Linked DNA regions of Homo sapiens. Each later gene encodes a partner of the first gene's protein in a complex. Each region holds a gene or a part of one and is shown in the gene's direction. Other genes may lie near its edges.

The links.
Region 2: SMARCA4 (region 1) and ARID1A share a complex: the UniProt entries of both Homo sapiens proteins name them as parts of the neuron-specific chromatin remodeling complex.

What each region holds. Positions count from the first base shown.
Region 1 is NC_000019.10:11,027,006-11,034,029, forward strand, and holds part of SMARCA4 (SWI/SNF-related matrix-associated actin-dependent regulator of chromatin subfamily A member 4), read left to right. Parts: intron 1-778; coding exon 779-945; intron 946-3,724; coding exon 3,725-3,888; intron 3,889-6,284; coding exon 6,285-6,512; intron 6,513-6,761; coding exon 6,762-6,860; intron 6,861-7,024. UniProt on the Homo sapiens protein: ATPase involved in transcriptional activation and repression of select genes by chromatin remodeling (alteration of DNA-nucleosome topology).
Region 2 is NC_000001.11:26,769,015-26,776,038, forward strand, and holds part of ARID1A (AT-rich interactive domain-containing protein 1A), read left to right. Parts: intron 1-2,104; coding exon 2,105-2,312; intron 2,313-3,485; coding exon 3,486-3,618; intron 3,619-3,797; coding exon 3,798-3,973; intron 3,974-4,331; coding exon 4,332-4,482; intron 4,483-4,565; coding exon 4,566-4,703; intron 4,704-4,787; coding exon 4,788-4,884; intron 4,885-5,314; coding exon 5,315-6,206; intron 6,207-6,562; coding exon 6,563-6,693; intron 6,694-7,024. UniProt on the Homo sapiens protein: Involved in transcriptional activation and repression of select genes by chromatin remodeling (alteration of DNA-nucleosome topology).

The sequences.
Region 1 (7,024 bases):
TTTGTAAGGGGCAGCCCAGACTCCTTTAAGCCCCTAATGGATGTGGATGCTGTGTCTAGATTTTCACCATTGCAAAGAACCTTGCTAAAAGCATTCTTCCAGCTAAAGCCTCCATTCAATTCCCCTGGGGTAGTAAGCCATTTGCAAGAAGAGAGGCGCCTAATGAAAACATCACAAATTCTTTTTGATGTGTTTTTTTATACTGAGTTGTGGAACAGGGTCCTGTACACCTGGCTTCAAGGCTGGGAGGCCTGGCTTGGACATGTGGTCAGCCATATCACGTCGTCCCCCTGCCAGCCTCAGTGTCCACATCTACAACACTTGGGGTTTGGCTGGAGAGAACATGAGAAGCCGAGGTGGCCCTTCCTTCTGGGTCTAGCAGAGCATGGGTGTCTCCAGTGTGGCATTTGCTCCTGGGGCTTCTTTATCGGGCAAGGGGACAAGGTCTGGCTTCCCGGAGCATCCCTGTTCCAGCCCCGTGTTGTGCCGGCCATGTGACTCACAGCTCCTCTCATTTTCATGAGTGTCTGGGTTTGACGAGAAATACATGTGCCACCCTGGTGATACGCCTCCCCAGCGAGGGTGGCCGGGCTTATTTCAGTTGGGGGAAATGGCTTTGCTGAAGCTTTGGGTGGGTGACGTCTGCTTAGGATGCATGTCTGTGCCCTTGAACCCGGCGCCTGGCCTGGAGGCGGGCGATGCACCTCCTGCCTTACCTGCCTGCAGGGTTCCAGGTTTAACATCCTGCGCCTTCTCTCCTGCCTCCTCCACACTCCAGGCTGGACCTGTACCGAGCCTCGGGTAAATTTGAGCTTCTTGATAGAATTCTTCCCAAACTCCGAGCAACCAACCACAAAGTGCTGCTGTTCTGCCAAATGACCTCCCTCATGACCATCATGGAAGATTACTTTGCGTATCGCGGCTTTAAATACCTCAGGCTTGATGGTGAGTATGAGCCAGTGAGGCGTTTCTTACAGGGTTTTGTTGTTGTGGCTGCCACAGAAGCTCCTCACTGGCATTCCCTCCTGTGAGGCAGGGTGAGGCCCAGGCGCTCTGGGTCCAGTGGCCAGAGTGGGCCTAGCCACAGGCTGAGCATCTTGGGCACTCGGCACTGGGACAGGCCGTGGATTGGACGCCGGGTGTCCTGACTCCTAGGCTGACAGTCTTTCCACGACAATGCTGGGCGCACTGGGGAAGGGGTGCCCTGTGCACTTTTAGCTGGAAGTGACAGAATTCCATACCATGTGGACACAGGAAAGAAAGCACCAATAGGCTTACATAGCTCTAACCCCAGGAGGTTAAACATCCTTCAGGCACAGCTGGATCCAGGCATGCAGGTGATATTGGAGAGACTTTTCTCCAGCTCTTTGCTCTGCCTTCTTCCATCTTGGCTTCCTTTCCACCTGCTCAGTGTCCCCAACAAAGGCAGGTCCCAGGCTGGCTCTCATTTAGCTGCTGTGAGCCGCATGCCCATCCCTGGGCCATTCGTAGCAGCCCAGTGACTGCCACCTTGCCACAGGTCAGGCCTGGACCTGGAATCAGACTCTGTGGTGAGCACGGAGGGAGGGAAGCAAGCACTGCCAGGCAGGAGCAGCAGCTGCCGTAGAGAGGCTCTCAGCCCAACCCCCTGCCCTGCGGTCCCTGATGGGAAAGGTCACCGCCTGTGTTTCTGCGCCTGCCTGCCCCAGCACACGGGAGCTCAGGGAGGAGAGGCTGTGAGATGCCGACAGGGCACGTGAGACATGTCTGTCAGTCCCAGTGGGTCAGGGAGCCCTGGAGTGAGTTCTTCGTGGGAGTTACTAGAACTGGGCTTACGAGAAACACGAGCATGAGCTGCTGAGACAGACACGGCTCAGCCAGTTTGTTGTTCCCTACACGACCTCCCAGAGCCTTTGTTGAAGCTCCTGTGCAAGGTCTGTCTCACAGCAGGACACCCCAGACCTCCATACCCCTTGTCCCGTTGATCACTTGGACCTGTGTTTGCTGGGCCAACCTGCCCAGGTGCCACCCGGAGTGTGCCCTGTGTGTCCCTCCAAACTGCAGGTCCTCCCCGGGGTTCTGTCCAGGACCACTCTACAGACACGAGTCTGTTGCAGGGGTCTCCCCGGCTTGCCTTCTTCCTTGGGGGCTTCCCACTTTCAGCTTTGAGGCTGAAAACCAAAATCCTTCAGGGTCCTCATGGCCGGGCCACCCCCCACCCTTTCCTCTCCTACGGTCTCTCCAGCGGCTTCTCCCGTCCTCGAGAGGGCCAAGGCTTCCTGAGGGCCATCCCGTCTGTGTCGTGTCCCTGACTCCCCCAGGAGAGAGCCTGGTTCCCACCCATCCCAGTGCCCTTCTGCCTACTCCATAAGGACAAGGACTTTGGTCAGTTGAACTACAGATGTGTCCTCTGCATGTGATGTGGTCATGGCCACAGGGCCAGAGAATCCATTGCGAGTAGAGGAAGGGTAGGAGCTCAGTGAAGTCTCCTGAGACTGCATCTCCCATGGGTGGGCTGGCATCTGGGAGCCGGGTGGCCCCTCACCTCAGCCCCTCCTCCGAGCTGGAGTAGCAGGGGCACATCTGGTGCCTGAGAGAGGGTGGGACGGCAGGTGGATGGCCAGGCTACTGTGGGCTTCTGCACCGTGCCTGGGCATGTGTAGGCTGGTGGCAGGAAATGGCCAGTTTTTATTTCTTCTTTTTTTTGAGACGGAGTTTCACTCTTGTTGCCCAGGCTGGAGTGCAGTGGCATGATCTCAGCTCACTGCAACCTCCGCCGCCTGGATTCAAGCGATTCTCCTGCCTCATCCTCCCTGGTATCTGGGATTACAGGCGCCCGCCACTACGCCCAGCTAATTTTCTTGTATTTTTAGTAGAGACGGGGTTTCACCATGTTGGCCAGGCTGGTCTCGAACTCCTGTCCTCAGGCGATCCACCCACCTCAGCCTCCCAAAGTGTTGGGATTACAGGCATGAGTCACCGCGCCCGGCCTGCCAGTTTTTATTTCATCACCAAAATGACTTCAGTGTTCAGGGGCACCTCTGTCCGAACTCCCAGCAGCGCAGGGAGTGTTGACATTGCCTTAATGCCCACAACGCTGAGGGCATCGTGGGTTGTCACCCAGGAGACCTGCTCTGGCTCCTTGACTTGGGTTTTCTGGGGCATGGGGACACTGATCCTGCCAGAAAGGACACGAGCCCCCTTTATAAGGTCTCCATGCTTTTACCGTAGAAGATTCTCTTTGTGAACCACAAAACTTTTTGAGACAGGGCTGAAGGCAGGTGCACCCACAGTCACTGTCCACCCACCCCCAGGTCCCTTGTGTTGCGAGCGGCGGTGTTGCCGGCATTGGCCGCTGTGTCTTCCGCTCCCCATGGAATGGCACAGGGTAGAGTAGAGGAGAGAATCCAGGGCTGTGGTGGTGGTGGCTGTGCTGACGCTGGACGCTGTGGCCTAGCTGTGGGCTGGGTGCTGGACTCTGTGCTCCAGGCCCACCTCCTCTAGTTCTCCCAGCGGGGCCTGTTTTCATTTCTGGGATGTGTGGAGAGACGTTTTGTGGTGAAACACTGGAAATCCAGTTATTCGCCAGTGGCCCACAGGCCCGTGTGGAGAGTGCGGAGCCAGGGATCTGGGGATGCTGGCAGGTGCTGATCCTGCTCCTGCTCTCAGAAGCAGGTGTTCCTTGGTGTCCCCACTCTACCCCTGAGGTCACCCCGCTGACCCTGTTCTCCTCTGTGCCCGTCAGGAACCACGAAGGCGGAGGACCGGGGCATGCTGCTGAAAACCTTCAACGAGCCCGGCTCTGAGTACTTCATCTTCCTGCTCAGCACCCGGGCTGGGGGGCTCGGCCTGAACCTCCAGTCGGCAGACACTGTGATCATTTTTGACAGCGACTGGAATCCTCACCAGGTAAAAGCGGGCCGGGCCCCAGGTCGAGGAGAAGGAAGGGGGTGCCTGCAAAACCTCGAGGAGACGGCCCTGGCTTGAGGGTCCTCCAGCCTCCTCCACATTGTCTTGGACCCCAGGAGCCGGGAGGAGCTGCACCCATATCTCCATAGGTCATCAGGGAGAAAAGAGGCGGGGTCCTCCTGTTTCCCAAAATACAAACAGCCTTTCCCTCTGATTGGGAAAGCAGTGTATAAGCCATCCGTCGGTTTGGTTTTTCTTAAATCTTGGAATGGCACCCATGAGGAGGTGGAAAGTATCCTGATCAATCTGCGCCGTCACTGTGGGGCGGCCCCTGCAGTGTGCCCTGTGAGCACACACACTGGCGCTTGTTCAGACACAATTGGGGGTAAACTCCATGCCACTTCGTTTACTTCCTCCTCTTGTTCCATAACCATGTACCCCTCATGGGCCTCGGCATCGGTGGATACCAGGTCATGCTGTTACATAGCTACAAGAATTTGAAAATGAGTTAAACTTTTCTCTGTGTTTCATTATAAGACTGATAAGTTCTTATTGTTTTTAACATGTAAACACCAGTGACAGTCAGGAGTCCCTTTTCCCTTCCTCTCCAACCGTGCTCTCTTCTGAGCCTCTGCCAGCCCATCTGCCTTCGCACATGTATGTACTGAGATTAACACAGATGCGGCGTGGCCTAGCATGTGCCTCTTCCACCAAGCAGTGGGTGTCAACCGCCGAGTGCACATCGGAAGCTACCCAGCCATCTAATCGGCCACCAGGCGTCCCGGCAGATGGCCACCCCTGGACGTCTGCTCTCAAACTCTGGTTGGCAGGCATCCGTCTTTTCTGTTGATCAGCCTGGTCACCAACCCAGCAGGGTCCCTCTTTCTCTCAGAGTGCTTGTGCAAACACCCTAGGTCTGCGCAGCCCTCAGACATGGGGTCGCTCCACCCCAGACATTGTCCTCTTCGTGTTCTGGTTGCTACTGCCAAAGTGGTTTCACTCCTACGCTGGGGTGTGAATGTACCCTGCCCTTCCCTGCAGCGTGAGGGCAGCAGCGTTCTCAGTGTGTAAATTGTCGCTTGTCTGATGGGTGAATGCCGTGGTGGTCACTGGTGGCCCCTTTTACGATCAGGCTGGGGTGTAGCTTCTGCCCAGACCCTGGTGACCAGCCAGTTTCTTAGGAGGTGGTTGAGTTGTGTGTCCCCGTTGGCAGGCCGGCAGCAGGCGGAAGCTGCACCTCAGGGCTGGGGGCGCGTTGGGGAGGGCTGGCCCTGCCAGGAAGTGTGCTGACAGGGCAGGAGGGCTGAGCGGCAGACACAAGGCACTCCTGGTCCCCACCAGCTGTGGCCTCTGCCACCCCATGGGTGCCAGTCTTAAGTTTCAGAGCATCACTGGTACTCACCCTGGTCCTGCAGCTCCTGGGCCCAGAGACAGGATTTCGTGTTAGCCTCCTCGTACTGTGCTGGGGTGATGATAAAACTAACAACCCAGGCTGGACGCAGTGGCTCACACCCGAAATCCCAACATTTTGGGAGGCCGAGGTGGGTGGATCAACTGAGGTCAGGAGTTCGAGACCAGCCTGGCCAACATGGCGAAACCCTGTCTCTACTAAAAATACAAAAATTAGCCAGGCATGGTGGTGCATGCCTGTAGCCCCAGCTACTCAGGAAGCTGAGGCAGAAAAATCGCTTGAACTTCGGGAGGCAGAGGTTGCAGTGAGCTGAGATCGCACCACTGCACTCCAGCCTGGGCGACAGAGCGAGACTTTGTCTCAAAAAAAAAAAAAAAGAAAAAAAGCCCATCCACGGCACCTGCATTGTTGGGAGCTAACTGCACCAGTCACTGGGCCACACTCCTGGTGCTTATTCACTCATTCGAGGTATGCAGTAGCCACGGGTTGGGCCCCATGTAGGCTGAGGGAGTTTTGAGGCTCACAGAGGTGAGACCTGGTTCCGGTTCTGTGTGCACTGTGAGAGTGGCAGGGCCCACAGCCAAACCAAGCACTGCCACAACACGGCCGAGCTTCGGCCCCCTGTTGTAAATGGTGCTCGACTGTGTAGGTCCACGCTGTGGGGAGCTGTGCCGCTGCCACGGGAGCTGCTTGAGAATATAATCCCCTGGGGGGTTGGTGCTTTCTTCCCGAATATCTGTGGGGTCCCAATAAGGTAGAAGGTGGCACTTCTGGAGGAACGTGATGAGAGTCCCCTTCCCCCGAGGGACACATGGCGGCCCAGGCTCCACCAGCTCTGTTTTCATGCGGCGGCAGGTCAGGCTGGGCAGAATTGTCAGGCCGAGGGTGGCACGCACAGCACACCTCTCCAGCTAGTGTCAGAGGCCACCTTCCCTTTTATGACCTCCTGGGCTCCTTTGGGACTGACTGGCACCTCTTCCCCCAGGACCTGCAAGCGCAGGACCGAGCCCACCGCATCGGGCAGCAGAACGAGGTGCGTGTGCTCCGCCTCTGCACCGTCAACAGCGTGGAGGAGAAGATCCTAGCTGCAGCCAAGTACAAGCTCAACGTGGACCAGAAGGTGATCCAGGCCGGCATGTTCGACCAGAAGTCCTCCAGCCATGAGCGGCGCGCCTTCCTGCAGGCCATCCTGGAGCACGAGGAGCAGGATGAGGTGAGCCCAGCACCGGCCCCGACCCCTCCCCAGCGTGAATGGTGGACGCGTGAGCGGCTTTCATTTTTGTTTTTTTACCTTTTTTGCACTCTTATTTTTTTTGCATCCCTTTGGAGTAAAGGGAGTGTGGGCTGAACGGAAAGAGGATGAGTACTTGCTTTTTCTTTGAAGTGGTTTTTTTTTCTAAACTGCTGGTGAAAGACGCCGGATTGACAGCCCTGGAGACTGAAGTCCTCTATTTATCCACAGAGCAGACACTGCAGCACGGGCAGCGGCAGTGCCAGCTTCGCCCACACTGCCCCTCCGCCAGCGGGCGTCAACCCCGACTTGGAGGAGCCACCTCTAAAGGTGAGAGGGGTAGTTCAGTCTCCATGCCCATTCAATCCTCGGCTTCTCGGCTGAGACGGCCAGCAAGGGCCCTGGTCCCACGGAGCGTGCGTGTGCGTGTGCGTGTGTGTGCCTTTCGCTGCCGTGTGGGTCCCCATCCACCGCAGCCGTGCCGGGACCACCAG
Region 2 (7,024 bases), on another chromosome or scaffold:
CCCTCCCCCACAAAGGAAAACAAAACAAAATAAGACACGTGCATACTGCCACATAACTGGCATGAGAAGCAAAGCCACGGAAGGCTTTTGAGGTGACTCCATGCATATTCCTGCCATTCTCCCTGATACTCAGATCTCATAGTCAAGCCTTCCCTGTCTATAGGGAAAGGGAGCATTGGGTTAGGTTTCGCTCACTTCTGATTGGGTGGGCTTCAGGGTTCACTGAACCTAGGATGAGGTACAGAGAGAATTCTAATGCCTGAGCCTGTCTTCCAGATTGGAAAAGGATGCAAACCTTTAAAATGCCGTGATTGTAACTGAACTTTTATAAAGGCAGTGATAATTCAGGGGCAAAAGAGTGCTATTTATAAGTTAGTTTGTGAAGGCTCCAAGAAAGCAAAGCTGAATCTTGAGCTTATCTAAAGGATTAGTAGGGTTTAGGTGGAAGAGTGGCCAATCCAGTAGACTGGCCTAGATGCCACGGAGATGGGAGAGAGTCTAGATATTTCCCACCAAGGCCATCTCCAACCATGAAGACTTAGCTCAGGTGTTACCCACTCTAAGAAGTATTCCTAGTCACCTCTGCCCCTCTAGGTTGTCCCCCTCTGTGCCTCTTTAAACTCTTCTTTCTAGTATCATAGGTATCATATCAGCAGACATTACAACCTATTGAACTTCCTTTGTGTATAGGGACTTGAAAACCCTTGTTCCCAGGCCTTGGGGGAACAGGCTTACCATATGGTAGATGAATAAGCATAAGAATACATGAAGAAGGAGACCTGTCCAGCTAGAGCAGAAAGACTAATTGTAGGGAGCATCTGGGGAATGGGCTTGGTCAGTGTGCCCTGAAGCTGAGGGAAGGAGGCAGAACTGTAGGTTGGCTGCTCGGGAGGTACAAAAGTCATAATAAGGCCCCGGGCCAGGCGCAGTGGCTCACACCTGTAATCCCAGCACTTTGGGAGGCCGAGACGGGCGGATCATCTGAGGTCAGGAGTTTGAGACCAGCCTGGCCAACATGGCCAAACCTTGTCTCTACTAAAAATATAAAAATCAGTGGGGTGTGGTGACAGGCACCTGTGGTCCCACTACTTGGGAGGCTAAGGCAGGAGAATCACTTGAACACGGGAGGCGGAGGTTGCAGTGAGCCGAAATGGCGTCACTACACTCGAGCCTGGGTGACAGAGTGAGACTCTGTCTCTAAATAAATAAGACCCTGAACACCCGGACCATCAGGACAGTGACTGGTAAGGGAAAGGGACCTGTGGTTATTTGTCAATGAGATATGTAGGGGAGCAGTGGCACAAGAATGTCAAATTTGCAGGGAGCCACCACCCCAAGAAAAAAATATGAGTAAATCCCAAGTTTGACAAAGCAAGTCAAGCAGGGTGGTCACTGATATTATCATGAGTCTCCATTTTATAAAATGTTAGTTTTTATTAGTGCATCTAAAATAGGATTTAGGGCCAGGCGCGGTGGCTCACGCCTGTAATCCCAACACTTTGGGAGGCTGAGGCGGGTAGATGACTTGACGCCAGGAGTTTGAGACCAGCCTGATCAACATGGTGAAACCCCGTCTCTACTAAAAATACAAAAATTAGCCAGGCGTGGTGGTGCACACCTGTAATCCCAGCTACTCGGGAGGCTGAGATAAGAGAATCGCTTGAGCCCGGGAGGCAGAGGTTACAGCGAGCCAAGATCACGCCACTGCACTCCAGCCTAGGCGACAGAGCGAGATTTATTTTTTCTGTCTCAAAAATAAATAAATAAAATAGGATTTAGATATCCAGATGATTTGTACACCACTTTTTAGCAGCGTACTAAAAAACCGGACTCTGAATTCTGTTCCAGTAGTAATGTGAAATTTGCCCTGTTGTGAATAAGCACAGTCTGATAGTTGCAGTGGAACATCCTGAGGGTAAAATGAAGCCAGCTGCAGATTTAACACTTCTTGTGGACTATCCACCAAGCAAGATTAACTTTTTCAATTACCTAAGAACTGTGGTTCTACAAAGATGAATACCTTACAGCCTGATGGGGCTTGGGGCTTATGGGCAGGAAAACCAGGCGGGAGATATACCTCGACTCCTTTGGTTTGGTTATACAGGTCAACAAGAACAAAAAATGGCGGGAACTTGCAACCAACCTCAATGTGGGCACATCAAGCAGTGCTGCCAGCTCCTTGAAAAAGCAGTATATCCAGTGTCTCTATGCCTTTGAATGCAAGATTGAACGGGGAGAAGACCCTCCCCCAGACATCTTTGCAGCTGCTGATTCCAAGAAGTCCCAGCCCAAGATCCAGCCTCCCTCTCCTGGTAAGGATGGGGTCAGCGGCCCCACCAAGGCTGAGAGGGCCTGTTGCCCTGGCCTCTTATTCAGGATATGAATAAGAGGCTTATCCAACAGGATATGCCAAGGATCTGTGCTCTGCCTTGCCCTACCACAGGGCTTAACAGGTTGGCTGACTAGAGAGTGGGCAGTGGAAACTCCCTTGGGAGGTACTCTACGGCAGCTCTTAAGTTTTAATTTTTGTTGTGCAGCTGACAACTTGCCAAATGTTTGTAAACTGGTGAATGGGAGGGGCACAAGAGGAGTCGGTGGAACTTATAAATGGCAGCAAGGCAGGGCCATCTGGGAGCTTTGGCCTATTGATGTCAGCACCTTAGAATGCAGCTCAGACTAGAGCCCTGAATTCCCCAGGGAGCTGAGATGGTAATGAATGGGAAGGAGGGAGTGGGGAAGGGTTATGAATGGAACTCCCTGATGGGAGTGGCTCTGCTCACCCTCCTTTCTGAGAGGAGGCTGAGGCCTAGGGTGAGCCTAGAGAGGGAAGAAGGCCAGGGTGCCTGGAAGGTGGGTGTAAACACATGTGCCCTGGTGTTGACCTCTGAGGGTGTAATGAGTGCCTGAGATGACTCATCAGCTGGGGAGGCCTCAGCAGTGGGATATCTACTGCTGGGAATGGTAACTATTGGAAACATTAATTACTAGTAGTTTTGTACTCATCAGCTTAGAAGAACATTTGAAGTTGAGGAGTGACACCATGCTGGATGCTTTAGAACAGGAGCTCCTAGACTCCTAAAATGCATCCCAGATTTGGGACCCCCTTCCCACCCAGGACTTGGGAGGCTCTGACTGGAGCTCATGCACCAGCATTACAGGGTTTAGTAGGTTAGACAAGGTCCTTTGGCGGAGTGAAGAGAAATAGCCAGGGAAGCTGGCAATGACTCAGGGAATCACCAGCATGGTGATGTCATGGCCACATCACTCCTCTTTTCTACACGTAAAACAAAAACAAAGAGCTACAAAACCCTCAGATTCCCGTCTTTATGACCTGGCCTTGTAGATCCTCTGCTAAGAAGGGTGATCAGGCTTTAAAGGCCTTAGGAAGAACTTTCCCAAAGAGATTCTGGGTCGTTCGTGTGTTTGTGTGAGAGTTAAACACTGTCATGCCAAGCAAACTACTCAACTTGTATCTCTGTCCACAGCGGGATCAGGATCTATGCAGGGGCCCCAGACTCCCCAGTCAACCAGCAGTTCCATGGCAGAAGGAGGAGACTTAAAGCCACCAACTCCAGCATCCACACCACACAGTCAGATCCCCCCATTGCCAGGCATGAGGTAAGGCCAAGAGCAGGGGCAGATGGTTGGGAGGATGGCTGAAGATAAGTGCATGGGAACTCCTTGCAGCCCAAGGTGGTCCTTGCCTCTGCCTTCCCAGCCAGTGACTCCTGCGTGTCCTTTGTTATATTGGAGGAATTGGTTTATTTGTGGTTTACTTGGTTTTCCTCACTCTGGAGCAGGAGCAATTCAGTTGGGATCCAGGATGCCTTTAATGATGGAAGTGACTCCACATTCCAGAAGCGGAATTCCATGACTCCAAACCCTGGGTATCAGCCCAGTATGAATACCTCTGACATGATGGGGCGCATGTCCTATGAGCCAAATAAGGATCCTTATGGCAGCATGAGGAAAGGTGACTGATCTGATTGCTATTTGAACTTGTGCTCGTAAAGACAGGGCCAGTGAAATGGGGGGAAATCTTGAGAATGGCTCAGGGTTCTTGTGGAGCCATCCTCTGAGATAATGCATTTCCTGCCCTAACTACCCCTCTTCATCCTTACCTCCTTTCTTGTCTTCTCCTTGGCTTCACCTTGTCATCCCTTAATAAGTACATGCTTTTCGCTGGTTGGGGCCTCTTTAGATCTCTGTTTTGAACTTGTCTGGAAAACAATGAGATCAAACCTGAACTCTGAAGAGGGCCTGGGTCAAAGGGTAGATTACCAGGCTTGTCAACTTACCAGTTTGTTCACCGCTTGCCTTTCTACGCTCAGCTCCAGGGAGTGATCCCTTCATGTCCTCAGGGCAGGGCCCCAACGGCGGGATGGGTGACCCCTACAGTCGTGCTGCCGGCCCTGGGCTAGGAAATGTGGCGATGGGACCACGACAGCACTATCCCTATGGAGGTCCTTATGACAGAGTGAGGTAAGCATGACCCCAGCTCCTGTCCACTCCCCCAGCACCCTGAAGCTATAGTGGGCTCAATCTGCCTCTCCAATTTTGTTTAGGACGGAGCCTGGAATAGGGCCTGAGGGAAACATGAGCACTGGGGCCCCACAGCCGAATCTCATGCCTTCCAACCCAGACTCGGGGATGTATTCTCCTAGCCGCTACCCCCCGCAGCAGCAGCAGCAGCAGCAGCAACGGTGAGTAAAGCCTGGTCTCGGTGCTGCTATGGATCAGGCTTCGCCACTGCCCACCCTAATCCTGTGTTTCTTTGCCTCCTATAGACATGATTCCTATGGCAATCAGTTCTCCACCCAAGGCACCCCTTCTGGCAGCCCCTTCCCCAGCCAGCAGACTACAATGTATCAACAGCAACAGCAGGTGAGGAGGGTAGCTGGGAATGGACTGGCATGCAGGTTCGCCTTGAAAACTAGTTAGTAAACTAATCTAACGTGTTGAAGTCTAAGAAGCTCACTTTAGATATTTTGGCATTCTTCTCTCACCTGACTGGCCAGTCCTGCCTGAAGAGCCACGTCCTCAATCTCTTCTCTATTTGGAGTTGGAAGGGGCTAGAAATAGACCTTATTTTGATTTTTAGGTTTTGTATATTTTTCTACTTAAGCAAGGGAAGGGAAGAAAGAGTGGTGGTTGCTTTTGGAAACAACTTCAAAAGACAATTTGTTAAGGTGATTCCCATGTTTTCTTGGAGTCTGTGTCCACCAAGCATCTGGTTGTAGCCATCTTGGCATCTGTGGGCTTTATGTCCCTGAGTGCAGAGTATTAACTTCCCCTCTGCTTGTCTCTGCCTTAGAATTACAAGCGGCCAATGGATGGCACATATGGCCCTCCTGCCAAGCGGCACGAAGGGGAGATGTACAGCGTGCCATACAGCACTGGGCAGGGGCAGCCTCAGCAGCAGCAGTTGCCCCCAGCCCAGCCCCAGCCTGCCAGCCAGCAACAAGCTGCCCAGCCTTCCCCTCAGCAAGATGTATACAACCAGTATGGCAATGCCTATCCTGCCACTGCCACAGCTGCTACTGAGCGCCGACCAGCAGGCGGCCCCCAGAACCAATTTCCATTCCAGTTTGGCCGAGACCGTGTCTCTGCACCCCCTGGCACCAATGCCCAGCAAAACATGCCACCACAAATGATGGGCGGCCCCATACAGGCATCAGCTGAGGTTGCTCAGCAAGGCACCATGTGGCAGGGGCGTAATGACATGACCTATAATTATGCCAACAGGCAGAGCACGGGCTCTGCCCCCCAGGGCCCCGCCTATCATGGCGTGAACCGAACAGATGAAATGCTGCACACAGATCAGAGGGCCAACCACGAAGGCTCGTGGCCTTCCCATGGCACACGCCAGCCCCCATATGGTCCCTCTGCCCCTGTGCCCCCCATGACAAGGCCCCCTCCATCTAACTACCAGCCCCCACCAAGCATGCAGAATCACATTCCTCAGGTATCCAGCCCTGCTCCCCTGCCCCGGCCAATGGAGAACCGCACCTCTCCTAGCAAGTCTCCATTCCTGCACTCTGGGATGAAAATGCAGAAGGCAGGTCCCCCAGTACCTGCCTCGCACATAGCACCTGCCCCTGTGCAGCCCCCCATGATTCGGCGGGATATCACCTTCCCACCTGGCTCTGTTGAAGCCACACAGCCTGTGTTGAAGCAGAGGAGGCGGCTCACAATGAAAGACATTGGTAAGGAGATCTTCCTCATTCGGTTGCCTAATCTGCCCCTTTCCATCTTGTCCATTGTTCCCTCCACCTTACTATTCTGGATGAGGTTGAATCTGGTCCAGTGTTGACTAAAATAGAACCAAAGAACTTTGGAAAAGGAAGAAATAAGCTAACTAAAGGTTCTCCTTCATTGCCATGCAATGAAGTCCTAGACAGACAGCTTAGAAGCCATGAGGGGCTGGTGTGTTTCATCTCCCAGACAGAAACTGCCTTCCACCTTGTGTTATCTTCAGAGTAGCTTCACTGATGGGGCAGCCCTAGGGGTGCCTCCAGCCAACCTGGGCTTGGTGGATAGACGACATGGAGGTTTATTTCAGGAACCCCGGAGGCATGGCGGGTAATGATGTCCCTCAAGTCTGGTCTCCTGGCAGAGAGCACATGGGCATTAGATACCATCAACATCCTGCTGTATGATGACAACAGCATCATGACCTTCAACCTCAGTCAGGTGAGTATCAGTGCCTGGGGAAGATTGAGAGGGTTTGGGATCTTCTTAGTGTAGACAATGGGAATGTCTCATCTTTAGCCACCTTGGTCTTTCTCTTTCTCTCTTGTAGATATCTTCCATGCCAGTACTTTGCTTCCTTTGCCTCTGGGCACGGGCCCAGGATTTTGACAGCAATAATAATTTGTTTACATGATAACCTTAACACAGGATTGACTTCAAAAGGAATTTGGGAGACACTTTGTGGTATTAGTAAGAATTCAGATTCAATCGATGCCAGTGGGGACACCACATTTTCTAGAAGAATCTGTGTTTTTTTGTTTTTTTAATAGAG